4 separate regions of the Homo sapiens genome follow, and all the other regions are reported to be linked to region 1. The links are microRNA targets in miRTarBase. Many come from high-throughput screens and were not tested one by one. Region 1 holds a microRNA gene; each other region holds the end of a gene's coding sequence. Distances are from middle to middle.

Evidence for each region. The annotated mature microRNA hsa-miR-6797-5p reads AGGAGGGAAGGGGCUGAGAACAGGA and lies in region 1 at 2,179-2,203, opposite strand. An mRNA with a match to its seed (bases 2 to 7 or 8) in the 3' UTR can be bound and repressed. Matches are read on the target gene's strand: a 7mer-m8 pairs with bases 2 to 8, a 7mer-A1 pairs with bases 2 to 7 and ends in A, and an 8mer does both.
Region 2: miRTarBase lists IP6K1 as a target of hsa-miR-6797-5p. Seed matches in the 3' UTR shown: 7mer-A1 at 2,286-2,292 and 7mer-m8 at 1,959-1,965.
Region 3: miRTarBase lists MORC4 as a target of hsa-miR-6797-5p. Seed matches in the 3' UTR shown: 7mer-m8 at 2,370-2,376.
Region 4: miRTarBase lists UBE2S as a target of hsa-miR-6797-5p. Seed matches in the 3' UTR shown: 8mer at 277-284.

What each region holds. Positions count from the first base shown.
Region 1 is chr19:41,868,350-41,871,834 of GRCh38, reverse strand. MIR6797 (microRNA 6797) reads right to left here and starts at 2,208; the gene lies at 2,137-2,208. It overlaps RPS19 (ribosomal protein S19), which reads right to left. Exons shown (of 6, transcript NM_001022.4): 4 at 2,621-2,804; 5 at 2,082-2,136; 6 at 1-484. The coding sequence ends at 458. RefSeq lists enhancers at 1-49, 290-359, 1,802-2,360.
Region 2 is chr3:49,724,444-49,727,443 of GRCh38, forward strand. IP6K1 (inositol hexakisphosphate kinase 1) reads right to left here. Exons shown (of 6, transcript NM_153273.4): 6 at 1-3,000. The coding sequence ends at 2,679. Among named protein-coding and RNA genes, the nearest start is that of GMPPB, 2.0 kb to the left of the region's middle. RefSeq lists a silencer at 1.
Region 3 is chrX:106,939,049-106,942,048 of GRCh38, forward strand. MORC4 (MORC family CW-type zinc finger 4) reads right to left here. Exons shown (of 17, transcript NM_024657.5): 16 at 2,890-3,000; 17 at 1,690-2,584. The coding sequence ends at 2,431. Among named protein-coding and RNA genes, the nearest start is that of CLDN2, 20 kb to the left of the region's middle.
Region 4 is chr19:55,398,665-55,401,664 of GRCh38, reverse strand. It overlaps UBE2S (ubiquitin conjugating enzyme E2 S), which reads left to right. Exons shown (of 4, transcript NM_014501.3): 4 at 1-1,920. The coding sequence ends at 229. It also overlaps a transcript of RPL28 not described here. Among named protein-coding and RNA genes, the nearest start is that of SNORD157, 2.5 kb to the left of the region's middle.

The DNA.
Region 1 (3,485 bases):
AGCTGAGGTCACAGCTCACAGCCATCCTTTCGTTTCTCACTTTCTGACAATTGCAAAGACAGGATGTGGGGGAGTGAGCCACAAGGGCCCCTGGGTCCTTCCTCCAAACCCAGATGGGAACTGTTTGACCTGGGAAGGCCCGACTGGCTGCCGGGTAAACAGCCACCCAATCACCCTGGGCCCCCTCACCCAAGGGAAGGGAGGAAGCGCCTCTTCCTCATGCCCCTGAAGAACAATCAAGAGACCCAAACCAGACCAGGCACAGTGGCTCACACTTGTAATCCCAGCACTTTGGGAGGCTGAGGCAGGAGAATCATTTGAACCCAGAAGGCGGAGATTGCAGTGAGCTGAGATGGCGCCACTGCACTCCAGCCTGGGCGACAGAGCAAGAGACTCAAAAAAGAGACCCAGACCAGGATTACGAATGAGGCAATTTATTAACCCAGCATGGTTTGTTCTAATGCTTCTTGTTGGCAGCTGCCACCTGTGGGAAAAGATGGAAGAATAAAAGTTAGTCAAGGGGGTCTCTGCTGGGGCACTTTGTAACAGCTACCTAACTACCCACCACAGGTGGGCACCCCGATTTGTGGTTTCAAATGCATCTATCTCATCTAATTCTCACTGTGGGTATTCCCCCATTTCACAGACGTGGAAACTGAGTCTCAAGGGAGTGGCCAGGCACAGTGGCTCACACCTTTAATCCCAGCACTCTGGAAGGCCGAGGCAGGTGGATCACCTGAGGTCAAGAGTTCGAGACCAGCCTGACCAATATGGTGAAACCCTGTCTCTACTAAAAATATAAAAACTAGCCAGGTGTGGTGGTGTGTGCCTGTAGTCCCAGCTACTCGGGAAGCTGAGATAGGAGAATTGCTTGAACCCAGGTGGCAGAGGTTGCAGTGAGCTGACATTGCACCACTGCACTCCAGCCTGGGCGACAGAGCAAGACTCTGTCTCAAAAAAAAAAAAAAAAAAAAAAAAAAAAAAAGGAAGGGAGTGGCGGAGTGGAGTCCAAATTCCGCCCACTGCCATGTGAGAAGGCCAACATCCAACCACCAGCAATGATGTGTGCGCCAAGCCCCACTCTGCCTGGAAGAGCTTTCTCCTTCCAGACCACCCCCAACTCCTAGAGGGCTGACACTTTCCATTCTTTTGTGACACTTGACTGACTAAATGCTCCAAGGCTCCTAGGAGGCCTGAGTCAGTGATACAGAATTGAGCTCATGCCAGGCCCTGGGTGCTCCTGCTGTACTATAGCTCACTGACTCCTCACTACCATGCTTGAGGTGGCCAAGGGTAGATTTTGGCCACAGGGAGGCCAAGACAGGAGACTGTGGCACCAGGGGTGTGGCCACTCTGCCCCAGGGTGTTGGCCAGCCAGGATCTGAATGGAGACCTGGGTTCTGAACCAGCCCCCCTCCCTTATCTCCACCTCTCCCAAGCAGCCCATGTGATGCTCAGTACGCATGAGGACTAAGGGGAAACATCGCAGGCTGACCTGGGGAGGGGGAGTCATCTACGGGTACAGCTATGTGCTCTGTGGATAGATGCCCAGTGGCACCTGGGCTGGAGTTCCCTCCAATTTTTTTTTTTTTGAGATGGAGTTTCACTCTTGTTGCCCAGGCTGGGGTGCAATGGCATGATCTTGGCTCACCGCAGCCTCCACCTCCCGGGTTCAAGTGATTTTTGTGCCTCAGCCTCCCCAGTAGCTGAGATTACAGGAATGTGCCACCACACCCGGCTAATTTTGTATTTTTAGTAGAGACAGGGTTTCTCCATGTTGGTCAGAATGGTCTTGAACTCCTGACCTCAGATAATTCGCCTGCCTCGGCATCCCAAAGTGCTGGGATTACAGGGGTGAGACACCACAGCCAGCCTGCCTCCAAATTTCTAAGCAGCACCAACAGGAAAAGTCAGACAGGACTGTCCTTTCTCCTGTCTCTGGGCAGCCCTCCTCTGACCCCACCAGCACCCTGGGCTGTGCCCTCCAGAGAAGGAAATAAGTCTACCTGACAAAGTATGGGCTTTGGAAATGCTTGGGCAGCGACTAAGGGACCCAGCCCCACCCCAAACGCAGGCCTTACCTGTCCGGCGATTCTGTCCAGATCTCTTTGTCCCTGAGGTGTCAGTTTGCGGCCGCTGTGGGGAGGGAAGGGTCATGCAGGCCCCAGTGAGCACAGGTCCTGTTCTCAGCCCCTTCCCTCCTGGCTGTGAGCCAGGCTTCTCAAAAAGCCACCTGCCGCCAGCCAAGTCCCACTGAGGGCCCTAGTCAGGTGCATTCTAACGAGCTGGGGGCAGTAGTGGGAGCCCCCCTGGGAGCTGACGGGGTGTTGTTTGTGCAAGCATTTAGATCAAAAGCCCCGAAAAATCAATTGGGAAAAGTTAACGAGCAGGCTAATGAAAGCAGATAGTCGCTAAATTACCCTCCTGGAGCCTGGGCTAGTCAGCCAGAGAGGTCGGGGTGAGGCCCCGTGCTGTTTGCTTTTCTGCAGAATCCCCTCCTGCCTGCCTCTGATAGGAGGGGCCTGAGGGGCTGGGCAGACTATGCAGGACCATTCGTTGGGGAATTGATGACCGGGCCTCAAGGCTACTCCATCAATGCAGCCCCCTCTACCCTGCTTACCCATCTTGGTCCTTTTCCACCATTTTCAGCCCCTCCAGGGCTTGGAGGACCCGGCGGGCCACACTCTTGGAGCCTCGGCTGAAGTGGCTGGGCATGACGCCGTTTCTCTGACGTCCCCCATAGATCTTGGTCATGGAGCCAACCCCAGCGCCACCCCGGAGGTACAGGTGCCGCGCTGTGGAAGCTGGGGGTAGTGTGAGAGGGAGATTTAAGGGTCTTGATCAAGGTCTCAGGTAAACAATTCCTTGTGTGTAAACAGCTAATTCTCACTGTTTTATAAGAAGGGAAACTGAAAACACACACTAACACCCAGAAACTGACAGCCCCCTCTCCTCACCCACCCCCCCGGCTAGCTCTTCCTTGACAAACAGCCCTGCACCCTGGGTGGGCACTCCCACCATCTCCAGGGCCAACTTCTTTAGTGGTTACTATCCCAGCAGCACTGCTGTTGAATTGAACCTGAGGTTATGTAGGGGTGGAGCCTAGCTGTGACCATCTCCATGGGCCCCAGAGAAGCAGGAGTGAAGGGACCTATTGCCACTCTCCGGGCCACCTCAGTCTGGAGAGCTCAGGATAACAAGGGCAGGGCAGACACTCTGTGCAGTGGGTGCCCCCTGCTTGGAATGTGTACCAGCCCCTCTGCAGACACAGGGAAGGCTGGCTTGGGCAAGTCCCTGGTCCACCCCAGCCAGCCTCCTTGCCTGCAAAAAAAGCTCCGTAAAATCCAGTCGACACACCAGCCTCCCCAGAAACGCTTGCACGCTTCTATTAACTGGAGCACACATCTGCCAGGCCCTGTGCCAAATGCTTTTCGATCTCTCCACCCTTCTTCACCTGAGGGCCGGGTTACTCTGAGGACTCAACA
Region 2 (3,000 bases), not on the chromosome of region 1:
CCGGCGCAGGCCTCGGGCGGTGGAGACAGGCTTAGCTTCCAGGAAAGAGCAGCAGAGAGCGATTCCCAGAACGCGAGGGCTTACAGTTCCCCGAGAAGCAAAAGAACCAGGTCCTTCCCAGGGTTCTCCATTATTTTTTCCTCATTAAAATATATTTTAAGTCAGCACAAACATAACCAAATTGTACAGCTTTAAAGTTCAAAGCAGTCTGCATCTAGGGAACGTGCATGTGGTCAGGAGTGAGCGCGTGAGCAGCGGCTACGTAACTAGCACAGGTGCCAGGCCCCTTGATGGGAATCCCCATGCTCACTGCACAGGCCCAGAGAGGGAGGGGTGGGGTCCCTGGCAAGTTGCTACACTGGTCCCCTTCCTCTTTTAAGCACCACCCGTCCCACCCCACCCTCAGGGGCTGGTGTCAGCTTGGCCCAGGGAAGCACTATAGAGAGGGCTCACCTGAGCACCCCAACCCATGATCCCATGTTGCACTTTGTTCCCAAGTTGGGGCTAAGAAGGCTGGGCCTGGCAGGGACAGGGCTCTCTGGCATGGGGCAGGGAGAAAGCAGTGGCAGACAGTATGCACACACACTTGCCCACTACCATTAAATAACAGGGCTGGGTCTCCAGGTGTCCAAAGTGCTGAAAAGAGGGGCCCTGCTCTAAGGGAGCAGCAGCAAATCCCAGGCCTTCCCACTCTTTGTAGTGCCAGGAAAATACTGAATGTAAGTGGGTGCAGCTTTGCTCGCTGTGAGGAGCAGCAGAATGCGGCAGCCTCTCCTCCCAGAATCGAGGAATCTGGGAGGCACAGGACATCCCCAAAAGGTCCCAAACAGTTCCAGACCCTATGTCTTACCCTCCACCCTACCAGGGAATGACTATCTACACTAATGAAGGGCTACTGCCCCCATGGCTGAAGCCACAGAATGGTACAGGAGAGAAGACTGTAATTTGTGACCAGAAACAGGCAAGCTGTCCCTCCCAGCCCCAAAGAATGGGAACCTGCCCACCAGTGGCACCAGGGCTGGGGGCTAGGAGAGATGGCATCCATCAAGGAGCCCTTAAGAGGCTGCATCTTTAAGGACCAGGAAATGAGTCCATCAGTTACCAAGGCTTCTCACAGCTGGCAGGCTTACCTTTAAAGCCAAACAGGCACTTGCCTAAAGTGACAATGAACAGTGTGGCCCTAGGCTCAAAGGAGAGGGTGCTAACCTTGGCAATGGCTGAAATCGGTGTCACCTCCTGGCCATCTGTTAGAAGCAGCAGATCTGTGCCATTAAGGGCTGGCAGCCAAAATGACTAAAACCATGAGAAAGGAAGGGTCACTCCTCAAGCCCTCACTGCCCCACTCTAAGGGTTGAGGGCCATATTCTAGGCCCACAGAAATGGTGCTGGGTCAACAGGGAAACACCAATTTATTCTGCTATCAGGTCTTTATAAAAAGGCAACACCTGTGGAGGAAGGGCATGGGGCAAAAGCTCACCTCAGAAGTGGAAGTGTTCTGCTGAGGAAAGCATGAAGGAATGAGTATATACTAATGAACAAGGCTACACCCCAGGGGAAGGATCCCAAGGGACGGGCTGGCAGCCGGACACATGGACAAACTGATGGACCCAGGACTGATCAGACAAAGCTCTCATTAGCAGAATGTGGGCACCTGCACCCAGGGCCCATACCACGTCCCTGTGAGCAAAAAAGCTTAAAGTTCTCCCTCCAGGCCCAGGGCCAAGAGCGCCTCACAAAGGGCTGCTGCCTTGAACTTGGCCTGGGGAAATGAGACCCTGAGCGGACCACAGCCCTTGAGCCCTGGGAGGAGCAGCCCATCCAGCAGCAGCACAGCTGCCGAAACTTGAGGAAGAAGACTCCCACCCATAGCACAAGAACTGCAAATACTGTCTGGGCCAGAGCCACCAGAGGCCCTGAGGCCTGCTAGGACACCGACTATCCCCCACTTCAGTGGGGTGGGAGGGAGTGGCCTTCTTAGGCAAGGGAACTTGGTGAGAGAGGCTGTTTCAGGAATAGGACAGGTGCCAACCTGTCACGTGCCAACAGGTGCCTGGGGAACCCAGGCGCCGCCCTCTGCCATAAGTTGGCCTCAGCCCAGCTTCATTAATCTAGCCCCATGCTAAGGTCAGACCGAAGGATGGGTCCAGCTTTGTGCAGTCAGCCCTGTGGTGCCCTGAGGGCACCTATTAAAGAGCTAGCTGACACCCACAGCATAAGACTGGAAAGCCCCCAAGAAATGGGCACCCAGAGCCCTCTACTTCTGGGGAACAAGGGAAGAGTGGGCGTGGAGGGGCCCTGCACCAGCCCAGGGCTTTACCTTACAATCAGCAGGGCCCTGCAGCCACAGATCTCAAAGATCTAGACAAGAGAAACCAATGTCCAAGGGCACCCTGTCCCTGCTGCCAAGCCCACCAGGGGCACCTCTTCCTTCCTAAGGCAGCCTGGACACACCAGTCAGAGCCACAAAGCTGAGGAGCCTGGCTGAGAGGGCGTGTGGTCTGCCCTCCTTCACTTTATATATATGGATTCCAGGCTACAGCTAAAAACATTTCTTTTAGTTTACACCAAAGAGAAATATAACCCTTTAAAAGCAAGTCTGTGTGTCCTCACGGCAAGTTCAGAACAATGGTCCCTGCCTGCAGTGGAGAGGAAGGGGTTCTGGGGGCCCAGAACAGGGCCTACTGGTTCTCGTCCCGCATCTGTTCCATGATGCTGATGAGGTTCTCCAGGCCAAACACGTAGCCTCTGTCTGGCCCATCATGCACGGTGGGGTCATCCCGGAAGCCCTTGAATGTGCTGTGTGCAAAGTCAATCATGCGGACATCCACCTTGGGCTGAGAGGAGGGACCCGCCTCGGGGCTGGTGTTGCTGGGGCTGGTGCTGGGGCCACAGGATGACGCCACCTCAGGGAGCACCATGTCCAGGTGCTTGAGACGCATCTCAGACCGGCGGTCCAGGCAGGACTCAGCCCGGCACTCCTTGCCATCATAGATGACAAGC
Region 3 (3,000 bases), not on the chromosome of region 1:
AACACTAGCAAGTCTTTAAGCAGAGGCATGACCTGACGAAGTTGTTAAAAAACAAAATTTGGTGACACTGAGTAGGGCGGATCGAGGAGGGAGAACAGGAGGCAAGGGAGGCCATCTAAGAATTTATTTAGATAATCAAGGCATGAGGTAACAAGTTATTTAGGTAATAACCTAAATGCTTATCATGGCAATAGGAAGTTAAAGGGCAAATGTGGGAGACATTTCAAAGGGGAATTATGATTATGTTAACCTAACAGGAGAGCCAGGAGGAGGCACCTGCTTTTTTCTTCTCAATGTCTTTTGCCTCCACACTAGATCGTAACCTCTGGTAAGGCTGGGAGATATTTTTCAATCTTTCCACAGTGGGATTTAACACTATCAAGGAGATCTCATGCTGGTATGGCTTCTTAGTAAATAGGAAACAAAGAGGTGGCTCTGGTATTGAAGTGAATGGACTCACACAGACAGTGGTGCTGGAAAAAGCAGTGTGGGGTCAGGTCCACAAACCAGGGAATGGGCTGAGAGTAAGCACTAGGAAAGATGAGTTCAAATTTCCTACCTTCTTCCCTTTAAAGCCTCATTGCCTGCCCTCCTTCCTACTCAGTCCCCTCATTCACCCAACAAACACTCACACAGGCAGAACCTTCAATGCTCTGAATTTTTCCTTCCAGCAGACTCCCATCCATCTGTGTGAAATCTCACCCACTCACAGCCCCCATCTGATGAATAAGTCTCACTGAGAGAATGTCGGAATGTGCTACTCTTCCCTCGGTACTATTTACATTTAGACAACTGCGGCCTTGACTATCATAATCCAAATGTCTAACATGAAAATTAATCATATGGCAAGCTAGAGCTGGGGTGAGGTGGAAGGTAAGGGGGCAGGGGGTATCTTTAAGTACTCATTCTAATGATGAAGCCTGGATTTGGCCTCCCCTCATTCCCTGCAGTCTCACTTGGGCTATGTACTATGAGCCCCCTTTCGAAGGAGTTAAAATTAATTTGGAAAAGTGTTCTGAAGTAACTCTGTGGAGGAGAAACAGAATGAATATCCAAGACATTTCCTCTGGACTAGCTAATCCTTTTGCCACTGCTTGATCTCACCTTCCTTTGATTGTTTCTCCTCTACTTCCTACTTTTTACTGTTGGTATATTTTTATGTGTTCATTATTCAATGTCTTTTGAAAAGTACCCTGAACTCTTTGGAGAGTATGTGCTATGTAAACACAATAAAGAAATGAATACAATGTCTCCTTTTACAAGAGAATAAGTTTTACTATTTCTGATAGTACGAAGTTTACCCCTCACTCAGCACTAGCCTGAAGAGTAAGTAGGTATATTCTGAGGGACATCAGATTCCACTCTAAAGTACTTCCCTAACTACCTGAAATCCCATTAATTTGATGACAAATATATTTTTTAATTTGAGCCTTATAGGTTTTTCAAGAATCCCTTATTAAAATGCGAATACCAAAGCAGGCGAACAGATCATGATATAACCTTAGTCCCCTTTATATTAACCCACCACTTCTATCGAACACATTTTTCACATTCCAAATTTTTCCATGCCTTTGTTTATGCTTTTCTTCTTCCAGAGGTAATGCTAAATTTAATATAAATTAGAAATATAACATTACCTTATATTTTCACATAATCTCTCATTTGATATTCAAATCCAAGCCTACTTGATCTTTTTAAAAACAATTTATTTTTTTCCAATGTAAGAATAACAAGTTTAATATTGAAAATCTGAAAAAGGCAGGAAGATAGGAAGAAGAAAAATATCAACCATAGTCCTACCACCTAAAGAACACTCACTGACAGTGTGGCCATGCTCATTCTTTAAGCCTTAATTTAGGTCCCATTTCTGGTGTGGTGCCTTCCTTGAACTTCCTCCCCCAGATCTTCCATGTCATATCTGTACCACTCAGTTGTACATATCATACACTTTTGTGTATAATGTGATGTATGTCTTATGTTTCCAACGAGATTGTTACATCTTCGAAGGCTGCAAACATGAGTTGTACTTGTTAGCTTACCCCAAAATAATACCTGGTATACCGGACCCAATATCTGCTGATTGATCTAACCTAAATGAATACAAACCATTTCAGAAAAAGATATACAATAGACCACATATCCAGGTCATGAAAATTAAAGCTTTCAGGTCACCTAGCTTAGTGACTATTGCTTTTCTGACCCTAGACTCTTGAAAGCCTATTTAAACTGGCCTCTTTCTCCACACCAAAACTGATAAAAAGGAGACTGATTATGAGCCAGGATTTACACAGAGATTCTCTATATAAGGCATAAAGGTGAGGGTGAGAGAGAGAGAGAGAGAGAGAGAGAGAGAGAGAGAGAGACGTGAGGGAGGGAGAGAAAAGAGAACAGACAGAAGATAAGAGAAGAGAAGGGTATACAGTCTGGTGCTCAATCCAGTATGTGATTTGCCTCCAGCACCGTGTACAGGATCCCATCCACTTGTTCTGAGTCATACCCGATCTCACGAAGCTCCAAGTGAGGGAGGACAGAAGTAAGGAGATAGCTGACGTGGATACGTAGCCGCGTAAGCTTTGCCAAAGCCCTGTATGAAGGAGTGAGGGGGCAGGAGAAGAGATGACATGAAGTCATTAACCAACAGAATAAAATGAAGCCCCTTCAAAATGGAACCACATTTCTCAACAGTTATGTTTTCATTAGCTAGAAAGAAGAAAGCACAACGCCACCAAGCACAGGGAGACTGGCTGCAGCTTTCTAAGAAGTAATTACTCAATTCTTGGTGGCCTGTGAATTAAGGCTTCCTCCTTTGTCTACGGCCAGTAAGTGGGGGTCCTAAGGGATGCTTCCCATTAGCACTCACAAGCTGATAACTAAACCCTAGTAATTAACCTTTCTAGGTCATCTCCCTCTGGGGTCCGGTAGGAGACCTGAGCCTTCTGCAGCATTTCCAGGTGTGTCTCTGTTTCCTTCAGTTTCTCTTTTAACTCTTGCTTTTCCTCT
Region 4 (3,000 bases), 14 Mb from region 1:
GGCCCGTCTGCTCACAGAGATCCACGGGGGCGCCGGCGGGCCCAGCGGCAGGGCCGAAGCCGGTCGGGCCCTGGCCAGTGGCACTGAAGCTTCCTCCACCGACCCTGGGGCCCCAGGGGGCCCGGGAGGGGCTGAGGGTCCCATGGCCAAGAAGCATGCTGGCGAGCGCGATAAGAAGCTGGCGGCCAAGAAAAAGACGGACAAGAAGCGGGCGCTGCGGCGGCTGTAGTGGGCTCTCTTCCTCCTTCCACCGTGACCCCAACCTCTCCTGTCCCCTCCCTCCAACTCTGTCTCTAAGTTATTTAAATTATGGCTGGGGTCGGGGAGGGTACAGGGGGCACTGGGACCTGGATTTGTTTTTCTAAATAAAGTTGGAAAAGCAGCTTCTGTGTCTCACAGATGCCCCAGGACCGCTGCATGGTGCCATGTGGCTCTGGGAGTTTGGCTCCCCTGCACAGGCCCTGGGTCCTTGTAAAGCCTCATGGACTGCAGCAGTGGGTCCATCTAGCTCACCAGCCTTGCTGTTTGAGGTTTGGGTCCACCTCTTTGTTCTGTGGAGGTAGAGCGGTCACAACCCCTCTTTGGAGTCAGATTTCCAATCTAAAATGGGGCGAGGACCTGGAGCTGCTCCTGGTGGCCTGAGCGGCACTGCCCTATACTTCTCCCTCTAGAATAATGGCCACGTTGGTGTGGCAGTGGTGTTCCTGCTCAGGACGGCCAGGTGCCAGCAGTCTGGCATGAGGCTCGCCTCGTCTGTCTGGTTCTGGACTGGGCCAAGGTTCGGTCCCCTTGAATCATCTGATCCTGCTTTGTGCTAAAGATTGGTTTTTCCCTTGTGGGCAGCAAAGCCTGTTCCCACATGTATTTCTGCACAACAGATCACAAAGCCAGCGGCTTAAAACAACACCCACTTCAGACTTTGTGTTGGAAGTCTGGACACGGCTGAGCTAGTCTCTGCTCAGTGCTTTGCAGGCTAAAATTGAGGTATTGGTTGTTGGTGTTCCTTAGTCTGGGTCCTCTTCCATGCTCATGGTTGTTGGCTGATTTCAGTCCTCGTAGAACTAGGGTCTTAGCTCCAAGAAGCTGCCCCTCCTTGGGCCCTGGCAGGTCTGATTTAAGGGCCCATTCCCTTTGAGGTGCTCACCGGATTAGGTCAGGCCCATCCAGATACTTAAGTGATAATGACTAAATCACAGGGGTAAGATCCCAGCTTAGTCTTAGTTTCTGCCCTCAAGGGGAAGGGATTAACCTGGGTGTGCACACCAGGGGGTGGGGAAACTTCCCATTCTATTAATGCGTTTAGGTTATTTAGACCAATGTCTCATTAATTTTAAAAAAATTAAAAATAGGCCAGGCGCAATGGCTCACGCCTGTAATCCCAACTTTAGGAGGTGAAAGGATCACTTGAGGCCAGGAGTTAAAGACGAACGTGGGCAACACAGTGAGATCCCATCTCTACAAAAAGTAAAATACATTTACAATAAAAATCTACAAGTTCTGACCCATAGGAGAGTGGAAAACTCAAAGGCTGCTTTTGTCCTGAAAGAATTTGCCTATTCTAATAAAACAGCTGAGGTTGAAACGGCTCAGCCTCTGAAAGGGGTCTGACCCTTCCTTGAGCCCTTGCCTCCAGTGACAATCTCCCAAGCTAAGGGAGAAAAGGAACCAAAAGTCTGCACTCCTCTCTACCTCTAGCAGTGCAGGGAGCGAAGGAAAGACAAGGGAAGAAACCCTTCAGATTTTCAGATCAAATTCACATCACTGGCCATCCAAGAAATCTTAAGCTCTGCGTTTATCGTCAACCATTTCTGCATGAGGGAAGCAAACAGTCCTTGCTGAAGGAAGGTGCCTGCATCCTGGGCCTCGGAACCCACTGAAATAATTTAGCGAAGTGCATAATAAAAATAATATTTGCCCTTAGCCCTGACAGAGTTCCTCAATCCCTTGGAATCTCCTGGGTATTAATAGGAGCAGTCTTTGTCCTAATGAAGCCATCTGTGATGGGCCCCTGCGTAGCTTCAGGAAGGGGGTTGGTCACTAGAAATACCAAGACCGAATTAGACAGTTGGGAATTTCAGCCCCACCCATACCTACCAACCTCTGGGAAGAGAGGGGCTGAAGGTTGAGGTCAATGACCAATGGTCAATGATTTGTCTAATATGCCCATGTAATGAAACCTCCGTTAAAACACTAAACAAGGTTGGGTGGGGTGGCTCACGCCTGTAATCCTAGCACTTTGGGAGGCCAAGGCGGGCAGGTCACCTGAGGTCAGGAGTTCAAGACCAGCCTGGCCAACATGGTGAAACCCTGTCTCTACTAAAAATACAAAAATTAGCTGGACGTGGTGGTGCATGTCTGTAATCCCAGCTACTTGGAAGGCTGAGGCAGGAGAATCTCTTGAACCTGGGACACAGAGGTTTCAGTGAGCTGAGATCCTGCCACTGCACTCCAGCCTGGGTGACAGAGCGAGACTCTGTCTCAAAGAAAAGAAAAGAAAAGAAAAGAAAAAAATTAGCCAGGCATGGTAGTGTGCGCCTGTAATCTCAGCTCTTCGGAGGCGGAAGTGTGAGGGTCACTTGAGATGGGCAGGTTGACGCTGCAGTGAGCTATGATCGTACCACTGCACTCCAGCCTGGGTGAGAGAGGGAGACCCTTCCTCAAAACAAACCGGGCACGGTGGTTCACCTGTAATCCCAGCATTTTGGGAGGCCAAGGCTGGTGGACCACTTCACGTTGGGAGTTCAAGAGCAGCCTGCCCAACGTGGCGAAACCTCATCTCAACTAAAAATATAAAAATCAGCCAGGCATTGTGGTGCATGCCCATAGCCTCAGCTATTCAGGAGGCTGAGGCAGGAGAATTGCTTCAACCCAGGAGGCAGAGACTGCAGTGAGCCGAGATTGCACCACCGCACTCCAGTCTGGGCAACAGAGTGAGACTCTGTCTCAACACCCCCGCCACTCCCCTCAACACACGCAACAAAATGTATAAAGAGTTCCTAC